Linked DNA regions of Homo sapiens: region 2 is linked to region 1. Evidence: fine-mapped expression QTL. A gene starts in region 1. The other region holds a variant in brackets. All regions are shown on one strand. Distances are between the middles of the regions. Region 1 holds the start of BCAS4 (breast carcinoma amplified sequence 4). Region 2 overlaps BCAS4 (breast carcinoma amplified sequence 4).

Region 1 (5,370 bases):
GCTACAAACATCAGCCGAAGAAATAAAACATTCCGAATATTGAAATCCCTCTCAGCCGAACACCTGACGTCAGGAGTTCAAGACCAGCCTGGCCAACATGGCAAAACCCCGTCTCTCCTAAAAACACAAAAATTAGTCAGGCGTAGCTGGGTGCGGTGGCTCATGCCTGTAATCCCAGCACTTTGGGAGGCTGAGGCGGGCAGATCACCTGAGGTCGGGAGTTCGAGACCGGCCTGGCCAACATGGTGAAACCCCGTCTCTACTAAAAATGCAAAAATTAGCCAGGCGTGGTGGTGGGCACCTGTAATTCCAGCTACTTGGGAGGCTGAGGCAGGAGAATCACTTGAACCCTGGAGAAGGAGGTTGCAGTGAGCCGAGATTGCGCCACTGCACACCAGCCCGGGCTACAGAGACTCCGTCTCAAAAAAAAAAAAAATATTAGGCGTAGTGGCATGTGCTTGTAATCCCAGCTACTTAGGAGGCTGAGGCAGGAGGATCACTTGAACCTGGAAGGTAGAGGTTGCAGTGAGCTGAGATCGTGCCACTGCACTCCAGCCTGGGCGACAGAGCGAGACTCTGTCTCAAAAAATATATATATATTAAATCCCTCTTGGGCTGGGTGCAGTGCCTCACTCCTGTAATCCCAGCACTTTGGGAGGCCGAGACTGGTGGGTCACTTGAAACCAGGAATTGGAGACTGGCCTGGCCAACATGTTGAAACCCTGTCTCTACTAAAAATACAAAAATTAGCCAGGCTTGGTGGTGCTTGTTCCTGTAATCCCAGCTACTGGGGAGGCTGAGGTAGGAGAATCGCTTGAACCCGGGAGGCAGAGCTTGCAGTGAGCCGAGATTGTGCCACTGCACTCCAGCCTGGGCAACAAAGCAAGACTCTGTCAAAAAACAAAAAAAAGAAAGAAAGAAAGAAAAGAAAAAGAAATCCCTCCCTCCCATACCCCTCTCCAGTTTCTTCTCCCCCGCCCTAAAGTAACCACTTTTGGAACATGGGGTACGTCGTTCCCATGCACAGCTTTGTACTTTTGCTCCATCTGTCGGTGTCCATAAACAATATACAGTGTGGTTCTGCGTGTTTTAAAAACTGTGCTAATGGCACAGTGCCCTACAGAGCCTTCTGCAACACGACTTTTCTTCCTTAGCTTTATGTTTCTGAGATTTATCCACCAGGAGAAGTTTGCTGTGCTCAGGTCAATTTGGTGATCTGAGGCCAGTCCTGGGCTCTTTGTGGGAGATGCCTAGCCAGCAGGCAAGGGCAAGGGTCTGAGACCGGCTCCCAGGGGATGGCGAGGAGGGCTCAGAGCATCAGGGAAATCATGACAATGACGAATGGCCGAGTGTGGGCTCAGTGAGTTCCTATAAAACCCTTAAGCACTTGAGGCCCAAGTCTTTGCCAAGAATTTTCCAGAAAATGACTGGCCTGAAGGCCTGGATATTTGGATAGGGAGAAATTAGCAGTGGACAGATTTGGAAGTGGGAATTGTGCAGTGATGGACTACACAAAAGGCAGGTCAAACATGTGTTGTTTAGGCCCCTACCTAGGGTGGCCAACTACAATATAAATTCAGATTTAATGGAGAGGAAGGTGTGGGACGTCCTATATATTTATTTGCACCCTTGATACCAGCCCCTCCTTTTTAAAAAACAACAACAACAACAAAAGACAGAGTTTCACTGTGTCACACAGGCTGGAGTGCAGTGGTGCGATCATAACTCGCGGTAGCCTTGAACTCCTGGCCTCAAACAATCCTCCTGCATCTGCCTCTCCAGTAGCTAGGACTACAGTTGTGCCCCACCACATCCTGCAATTTTAATTTTTTTTTTTCTTTTAGAGAGATGGAGTCTCCTTATGTTTGCCCAAGCAGCTCAGCCTTTTTTTTTTTTTTTTTTTGTGAGGCGATTTAACATTTAAAGAAAAGTCAGCAGGCAGGGGGCGCTGGCCCACGCCTGTAATCCTAGCACTTTGGGAGGCCGAGGCAGGTGGCTCACCTGAGGTCAGGAGTTCGAGAGCAGCCTGGCCAACATGGCGAAACCCCGTCTCTACTAAAAAATACAAAAATTAGAATTAGTCGGGCGTGGTGACAGGCGCCTGTAATCCCAGCTACTCGGGAGGCTGAGGGAGGGGGAGAATTGCTTGAACCCGGAATGTGGAAGTTACAGTGAGCCGAAATCGCACCACTGCACTCCAGCCTGGGCGACAGAGCGAGACTCCGTCTCCAAAAAAAAAAAATTAATTAATTAAAAATAAAAATAAGTCATCAAACGAAAAATCAAAACTTCAGACTTGTCTTATACCTATTTGCCTTTTAGTACTTTCCTCATTAGCACTGTTGGGGTGGGAGATGAGGCGCACCTCGCTCTCTTCAGCCCCAAGGCTTGTAAAGGGTCTATCTAGGCCGGCCTCCGAGGGCATGGAGGGAGTGGGTGCGGTTGTGAAATGTAGTGCGCTCAATAGTTTCCTGGTGAAGTTTATTTTAAAATCCGCACCGAAGAGGAAGACGAGGACCGTCACACTCGGCCTTCCCTAAATTCCAGGACCCTCCGCCCGATGCAAACTAGATGCTTTAGTAGGATGGGAACGGGTGGGGGGCGGGCGGCTTTGGGCTTCCTCTAAGCTAGCGCCTCTCTAACCCGGACGCCCGTTAGAATCACCCGGGGAGTTTTAGAAACTACCGATGCCCAAGCCCCACTCCGAAGGATTCCAACTTAATCGGCCTGGTGCGAGGCCTGGCTTCCGGGCTTTTAAAAGCTTCCCGGGGATTCTATTTTACGGCCGGGTCCGGGGCCGGGAGCCTGTACTCTACCGGGATTCCGATGGGGAGGGGTGGCTTGCCCCAATAGTTCTCAAATTTAGCTTTGGGTCAACAATCTGGTTGGAACCACCTAACAAACATCAAAAGATCCTGATGCCCAGGTCTTAACCCAGAGACGGTGTGGTCCAGGCTTGGGAAATTCTAAAAGAGCTCCAGGTGACTGCCATCTGCAAGCGAGTTTGCAAAGCACTGATGCCCAGGTGCTGCGGGGGCGGGCGCAGCGCGCGCCGCTCGCCACTGGGTGGCGCTGCCCGCTCGGCCCGGCGCTCCTGGAGCTGCGAGCCGCGACCGCCGGGAGCGCACCTGCCCCGCCTCCGCCAGGCGGTCCGCGGGGCATGCAGCGGACCGGGGGCGGGGCTCCGAGGCCCGGGCGCAACCACGGGCTCCCAGGCAGCCTCCGCCAGCCGGACCCCGTCGCCCTCCTGATGCTGCTCGTGGACGCTGATCAGCCGGAGCCCATGCGCAGCGGGGCGCGCGAGCTCGCGCTCTTCCTGACCCCCGAGCCTGGGGCCGAGGTAGGGGACGGGGCTGTGGAGTTGGAGGAGAGGGTTCTCGCGGTTAGGGGTCCGGGCTCCGGACCCTCGGCTTCCCCGGAGCATCCTCTCGCTCCCGGAGTGGGGGGCCCGGGGATTCCCCCCTTCCTGAAGGGTGGCTGCGGGGCGCCACGCAGAGATGTGCAGCGGGTCGTCCCTGCTCGCTCCTCCGGGCGACACCGGGCCCCGGAGGCCCAGGCTCGCTTTCCCTCCCCACCCGGGTCCCCCAGCATCCGCCGGGTCCTCAGGCGCCGCCCTTTGCCAGGCCGGCCCTGGGAGAGGCGGACCCCGGGACCTCTGCTGCCCCGGCTACCTCCGAGCGGTGCCCGGGCCGAGCGGCGCCTCAGGCTGCGGCTGTGCGGGCCGCGCTGCGCTGCTGCAGCTCGGAGCGAAAACACCACGCCTCTGTCTGCGCTTTCTATTTTAAAAGCACCAAGTGAAAAGCAGATCTAAAACGAGACCCTCTACCTTCCGGCTGGAGGCATCTGTCGACGCTGTTGTGAAAAAGTTATTTGTCTGAGTTCACTAGGAGTTATTTACGGTCAGAAATTCAACCCATTCTCTTTTTAAACCACAAAAGCAGTACAGGAGTATTTAACATAAAGGCTATGCACCCCTTTCTCTTTTCTCTCCCACCCCAATTCTAGTTTTCTTAGAAAACCAGCATTAACTGTTTGGTATAAATCATTCCGGACATTTAAAATGCATTTACAAATGTAGATATCTGTATCTGCCTAGGCAGAGTATTGGCTCATGCCAGTGGTCCCAGCATTCTGGGAGGCTGAGGCAGGAGGATTGCTTGGGATGGGGATAGGGGACGGGGAAGAGTGAGGCTGCAGTGAGGCTTGATCATGCCACTGCACTCCAGCCTGGGCGACAGAGTGAGACATTTAAAAAAAAATCTATCTCGCCAGGCCTGGTGGCTCACGCTTGTAATCCCAGCACTACTGGGAGGCCGAGACGGGTGGATCACCTGAGGTCAGGAGCTCGAGACCAGCCTGACCAACATGGTGAAACCCCGTCTCTACTAAAAATACAAAAATTAGCCGGGTGTGTAATCCCAGCTACTTGGGAGGCTGAGGCAGGAGGATCGCTTGAACCTGGGAGGCGGAGGCTGCAGTGAGCTGAGATCAGCCATTGCATTCCAGCCTGGGCAACAAGAGCAAAACTCCCTCTCAAAAAAAAAAACCATAAAATATCTTTCCATATATATATATATACATATATATGAGTTTTCTCTTTTTTCTTTTTCTTTTTCTCCATATATATATATATATATATATATATATATATATATTTTTTTTTTTTTTTTTTTTTTTTTTGAGATGGAGTCTTGCTCTGTCACCAGGCTGGAGTGCATTGGCATGATCTCAGCTCACTGCAACCTCCGCCTCCCAGGTTCAAGGAATTCTCCTGCCTCAGCCTCCCGAGTAGCTGGGACTACAGGCGTGTGCCACCATGCTCAGCTAATTTTTGTATTTTTCAGTAGAGACGGGGTTTCACCATGTTGGCCAGGATGATCTCTATCTCTTGACCTCGTGATCCACCCTCCTCGGCCTCCCAAAGTGTTGGGATTACAGGCGTAAGCCACAGCGCCCAGCCATCTCCACATATTTTTAAAATAATTTTTGAACAGACGTTTTTAATTTTTTTTTTTTTGACAGGGTTTCACTTTGTCACCCAGGCTGGAGTGCAGTGACACAATCATAGCTCAATGTAGCCTCAACCTCCTGGGCTCAAGTGATCCTCCCACCTCAGCCTCCCGCATAGCCAGGACCACAGGTGCGCACCACCATGTCAGGTTAACTTTTAAAACAAAGTTATTTTGTGGAGACGAGATCTCACTATGTTGCCCAGGCGGGTCTTGAATTCCTGGGCCCAAGAGATCCTTTGGCCTCAGCCTCCCAAAGTGCTGGGATTATAGGCATGTACCACCATGCCTGGCCCATCTATATTAGTTTTAAATGAAACCTCACTTGCTGCTGTAATACTGTCCTGCAACTTGCTTTTCT
Region 2 (5,370 bases), 84 kb after region 1:
TTGGTCCCTTTGGGTGGCCGGCTTTGGCTGTCACAGGCAGTGCTGTCAGAGGAGCTCAGAGTCTTTGGTCATATGTGTGAGTCCTGCAGGATGAACTTGTAGACCGGGAATTCCTGGGTCATGGAACAAGTGGATCCAAATCGCTGATAGAGCTTCATTTCTTGTCATTCCAGAAGTCACCTGCACCGGTGCCCGTGACGTACGAGCTGCCCACACTGTATAGGACGGAGGACTATTTTCCTGTGGACGCCGGGGAAGCACAGCACCACCCCCGCACCTGCCCTCGGCCTTTGTGAGCTTTGTGGTCTTCCCATCAGGAACGCTGGAAAGTGACATTGTGTACACACTGCAGCTTGGGGGTTTTTTCTTTGTATTGCTGTTTATTTTATATTTTAAAAATATTTAAAAAAATGTCGAGATGGGGTCTCACTATGTTGTCCAGACTGATCTCAAACTCCTGGGCTCAAGTGATCCACCCACCTTGGCCTTCCAAAGTGGTGGGATTATGGGCAGGAGCCTCCGTGCCCAGGCTGCTGCCATTTTCAAATTTCCTCCCTGCCTCATGTGAGACCACAGGGTTTGGAGAAGCAGTTGGAACCCACGTGTGGTGATGCCTCCCACATCGGCCTGCTTGGGGTTCTACAGGGGTTGAGGGACCAGGCCTGGCCGGGGCTGATGGACAGTGGGGACTTTCCTTCTCTCCATGATGGCTTTGCAGGGGCTCCATGGTCCTTCTCTCTGTGATGGGTTTTTGCACGGGGTGTGCTCTGCCACTGTGGTGGGTGGGTGGATGCTGCTTCTGTTGCCTCCAGACCTCGGTGCCCACAGCCTTGAGGATCCTTCCAATAAAGGTGTCAAGAGCTCAGCCCTGGTCTGGTGTGAGAATGACGGGGAGTGATAGTTTCCTTTTCACCTGTGCAGTGTTTTCTAGAAGGTTCCTCCTGTGCCTCACCTGCGAGGGCCTGATCCTGGGCACCTGCTGATGAGGCTCCAGCTGAGGGAGGGGTAGTCCCGGCCTTTGGATTTCCAGCAAGAGTGCAGAGGTCATTAGGACCCCCAGGGTCTTCAAAGGCTTGTTTACCCACATTTCTTCCCATGCAGATGAGTTTCCTGCTATTGTCCTAACACTCCGGATTTCTCACTGTGGCTTCAACCTGCAATGGGTATTTCTGGAATTCCTCGAAGAGCCAAGAACACACACATAATTCCCCTATGCACATACAGGACTGAACTGTAAATCTGCATTAGAATTTCAAGATAATCTGCCTGGGCAAGGTGACTCATGCCTGTAATCCCAGCATCTTGGGAGGCTGAGGCAGGAGGGTCGCTTATGCACAGGGTCAAGACTGCAGTGAGCCGTGATTGTTCTACTGCACCCTAGCATGTGCAACAGAGCAAGACCCTGTCCCCCACACCCCAAAAAAGTTTTTCAAGGAAGCCTAAAATAATGAATCTGGCAAGATAGAGTAGAGGCCAGGTGCAGCGGCTCATGTCTGTGATCCCAGCACTTTGGGAGGCCGAGGCAGGCAGATCGCCCAGGAGTTTGAGACCAGCCTGGGCAACATAATGAGACCATATCTCTACCAAAAATACAAAAATTAGCCTGGCGTGCTGGTGCACATCTGTGGTCCCAGCTACTTGGGAGGCTGAGGTGGGAGGATTGCTTGAGCCTGGGAGGTTGAGGCTGCAGTGAGCCATGATTGTGCCACTGCACTCTAGCCTGGGTAACCAAGTGAGATCTTGGCTAAAAATGTTTTTAAAAATTAAAAACAGAAAAGCAGGGAAATAGTTTAGACAATTTTTGGAATTCAGAGATATAGGTAGACCCCTTGTTTCTGGAAAAGTCAGCATTTTTATTCTCTTTTCTTTTTTTTCGAGATGGAGTCTCACTCTGTCACCCAGGCTGTAGTGCGGTGGCATGATCTCAGCTCACTGCAACCTCCGCCTCCCGAGTTCAAGCTATTTTCCTGCCTCAGCCTCCCAGGAAGCTGGGATTACGGGAGCACACCACCACGCCCAGCTAATTTTTGTATTTTTAGTAGAGACGGGGTTTCGCCATGTTGGTCAGGCTGGTCTCGAACTCCTGACCTCAGGTGATCCTCCTACTTTGGCCTCCCAAGGTGCTGGGATTACAGGTGTGAGCCACCATGCCCGGTCAGCATTTTTTTATTGAGGTGACTTTTACAATTTTTTTTTTCTTTAAATGAGACACCTGTCACCCAGCCTGGAGTGCAGTGGTGTGATCATGGCTCCCTGAAACCTCAAGCTCCTGGGCTCAAGTGATCCTCCTGCCTCAGCCTCCCAAGTAGCTGGGACCACAAATGTGCACCACCATGCCTGGCAACTTTTCAAATTTGTTTTATTTTTTGTAGAGACAGGGTCTCCCTATGTTGTTCAGGCTGGTCTTGAACTTCTGGGCTCAGGGGACCCTCCTGTTTCGGCCTCCCAAAATGTAGTGTTGGCACAAACCTTTATT[G/A]AAGTATAATTTATATTACAGAAAGGGGTGCCTAAGTGGTTCACTAAATTTTTCACAAACTGAGTGTATCTATTTAAGCCTCACCAGACTGAGCAACCAACATTATCAGCACTGAGCAGCCCCCTCATGCCCGCTTCTGGTCCATGCCCATACCCACCCCCACCCCAGGCTGACAGCATACTGACATCTAACCATATGGACTGGAGTTTCTTGTTTCTGTGCTCTGTATAAAGAGAGGACACACGGGATGTGTACCTACGGTGTGTCATCTCTTGTCTCTGGCCTCACCGGCTTGATGTTACCTTGGGAGGTGTCACTGTTGCTGTGTCACTGTAGATCATTCCCATGGCTGTGTTGTATTGGCTGGGACTGTTTTTATCGAAGGGAGCTTGGACACTCTGCATGCCCCAGTGTGCTCAGGGAGAGCACACGTTGGATGGAAAGTTGGCCGGGTGAGGTGGCTCACGCCTGTAATCCCAGCACTTTGGGAGGCCAAGGTGGGCAGATCACTTGAGGTCAGGAATTCGAGACCAGCCTGGCCAACATAGTGAAACCTCATCTCTACTAAAAATACAAAAATTAGCCAGGTGCTGTGGTGCACCCCTGTAATCCCACCTACTCGGGAGGCTGAGGCAGGAGAATCGCTCGAATCTGGGAGGTGGAGGTTGCAGCAAGCCAAGATCGTGCCACTGCACTCCAGCCTGGGCAACAGAGCGAGACCCTATCTCAAAAAAGAAGAAAAAGGAGAAAGCTAATGTTAATTTTTTAGACAAGCAGTTGAGGACACTCATTTCCGGAAGGGTGAGTATCTGCTGAGTGTTGGGCACTCCCAGGCTTCTTTCTCCTCCCAGCCCCTGAAACAGGGGCCAGGGAGAGTTGGAAGGAAATCCCATGTGATTAAGCCGCAGCAACGTTGAGTGTCCTAAAGCAGGGACCCACAGGCCCCACGCTAGGAGCATGGCCCTGAGGTTAGCCTGCCTGGCAGCACTGTCCGCTCCCATGCCTCTTAGCTGTGTGAGCTGGGCTTTTCACTTGCTCTCTCTGAGTCCAGCTGCCCCTGCGGTAAGACATGAGGATGGCTCTGGTCTGATGGGTTGTGGTGAGGGTGACATGAGGTGAGCTGTGTGCATGCTGGGCACACTGGCGAGGGGCTCTCAGTAATGGGAGGCTGCTGTTGCAGGGCCCGGGCTGTGATGGGGAAAGGGTTGATTGTCCTGCGTTTCTCAGTTGACCAGCGGCATCCGAGGGCCTGAACAGCGAGTGACTCAGGGACTGCCCTTACGTGTCAGAGTTAGAAGTCATGGGAGAATGGAGGCTGCTCTCTCTGGGTTTCCCTGTCCTGTTAGGAGGGGTGAGGTTGCACAGGAAATCTATGGGGAAAAGGTGACAAGTGAACTGGAAGTAGCCGTTCCAAAGTTCCTAGGATTTGCACTGCCAAACAATGAGCTTTAAGGGACGCTTGGAAACATCTGGGGAGAAGGAAGGCCGGGACACTGCGCCCTGCCATCACCAACCCCTAACCTCAGTCCTCTGAGCGGCTCCACTGTCCCTGTGCCAGGTGACTTCATGTGCGTCCTCATTAAAGCAAAGTGCCTGACATTTCCATTGTCCAGTCAATGATGTCCTCGGTTGCTGACTATTGATGGCCTCTAACCCCTTGGTAAGGGTAACTGCAGCCTAGGAAAGGGTGATCTGATCTTTCTCTTTTTTAAACAGAGACGGGGTTTTGCTATGTTGTCCAGGCTAGTCTCAACCTCCTGGGCTCAAGCGATCCTCCTACCTTGGCCACCCAAAGTATTGGGATTACAGTCGTGAGCCACCGAGGCCTGCCAGTCTTTTTCTTTTGTGGCTGATGTTGGACAGGGACACCAGTAGAAAGGTCACTGCAGATTTCTTCCCAAGAGCAAGGCTCTTCGGTCAACCCCCTTTCCCACTTTCCCAGCGGATGTGAACTTCGTGCTCACCAAAGCAAGAGGTTTCAAGGTAGCAGCCCATGGGGTTGTATCTGATTGGCAGAAATGTGTGGTTTGCCCTGAATTGTTTTAAGATGTTTTCATGTTGTGACAATTGGGTAAACTTCTGGAAAAAATAGAGCTCCATACCTCACTCAGCACACCTGGATTGTAAATCGATTAGGAGCTTAATGTATAAAATGAATCTATTGGCCGGGTGCAGTGGCTCACACCTGAATCCTACCACTTTGGGAGGCCAAGGTGGGTGGATCGCTTGAGCTCAGGAGTTCAAGACCAGCATGGGCAACATAGCAAAACCCCTTCTCTGTAAAAAATAGAAAAATTAGCCAGGCATGGTGGTGCTTGCCTATAGACCCAGCTACTTGGTGGGAGGTGGGAAGATTGCTCGAGCCAGGGAACTTGAGGCTGCAGTGAGCTGAGATTGTGCCACTGCACTCCAGCCTGGGTGACAAAGTGTTACCCTGTCTTAGAAAGTAAAATAAAACGAATCTATTGAAGAAATAGGTTAAAAACATTGGCGAAGTGTACAAAATCGAGAAGCCATAAAAGAGGTCAATTTGATTATATAAAATTTTTAAACTTCTGCATGGCAAAACCAACGGAAAACTCAACCAAAAAATCCCAAAACAACAAAATCCTAAGCAAATTCAAAAGATAGATGACAAATTGGGAAAATATATTTGCATCTCATGCTACAAAGGGATAATCTCCCTAAAAAATGTCACCTACAAAAAAGGGAAACAGTAGCAAAACAGGCAAAGGCTATGAACAGGAGTTTCACAGAAAATGCAAAACATGAAAAGATACTCAACCTTAATGTATGCCAATAAGTATGGAAAAATACCCTGAGATTTTTCACATTTCAGGCTGGCAAGGATTAAAATTTTTGATGACACTATTGAATTTTTTTTTTTTTTTGAG

Evidence for each region. PIP is the estimated chance that this variant, and not a neighbour inherited with it, causes the effect. A credible set is the group of variants that fine-mapping cannot tell apart.
Region 2: its variant is the best candidate, but not a certain one, in a credible set for the expression of BCAS4 in whole blood (TOPMed, PIP 0.85).

The regions. Positions count from the first base shown.
Region 1 is chr20:50,791,834-50,797,203 of GRCh38, forward strand. It overlaps BCAS4 (breast carcinoma amplified sequence 4), which reads left to right and starts at 3,228. Exons shown (of 5, transcript NM_198799.4): 1 at 3,228-3,340. The coding sequence starts at 3,251. RefSeq lists a silencer at 2,961-3,780.
Region 2 is chr20:50,876,313-50,881,682 of GRCh38, forward strand. It overlaps BCAS4 (breast carcinoma amplified sequence 4), which reads left to right. Exons shown (of 5, transcript NM_198799.4): 5 at 174-865. The coding sequence ends at 296. Among named protein-coding and RNA genes, the nearest start is that of ADNP-AS1, 52 kb to the right of the region's middle. RefSeq lists enhancers at 1-409, 3,068-3,569, 3,570-4,069. The variant G/A (reference allele first, on the strand shown) is at 2,477.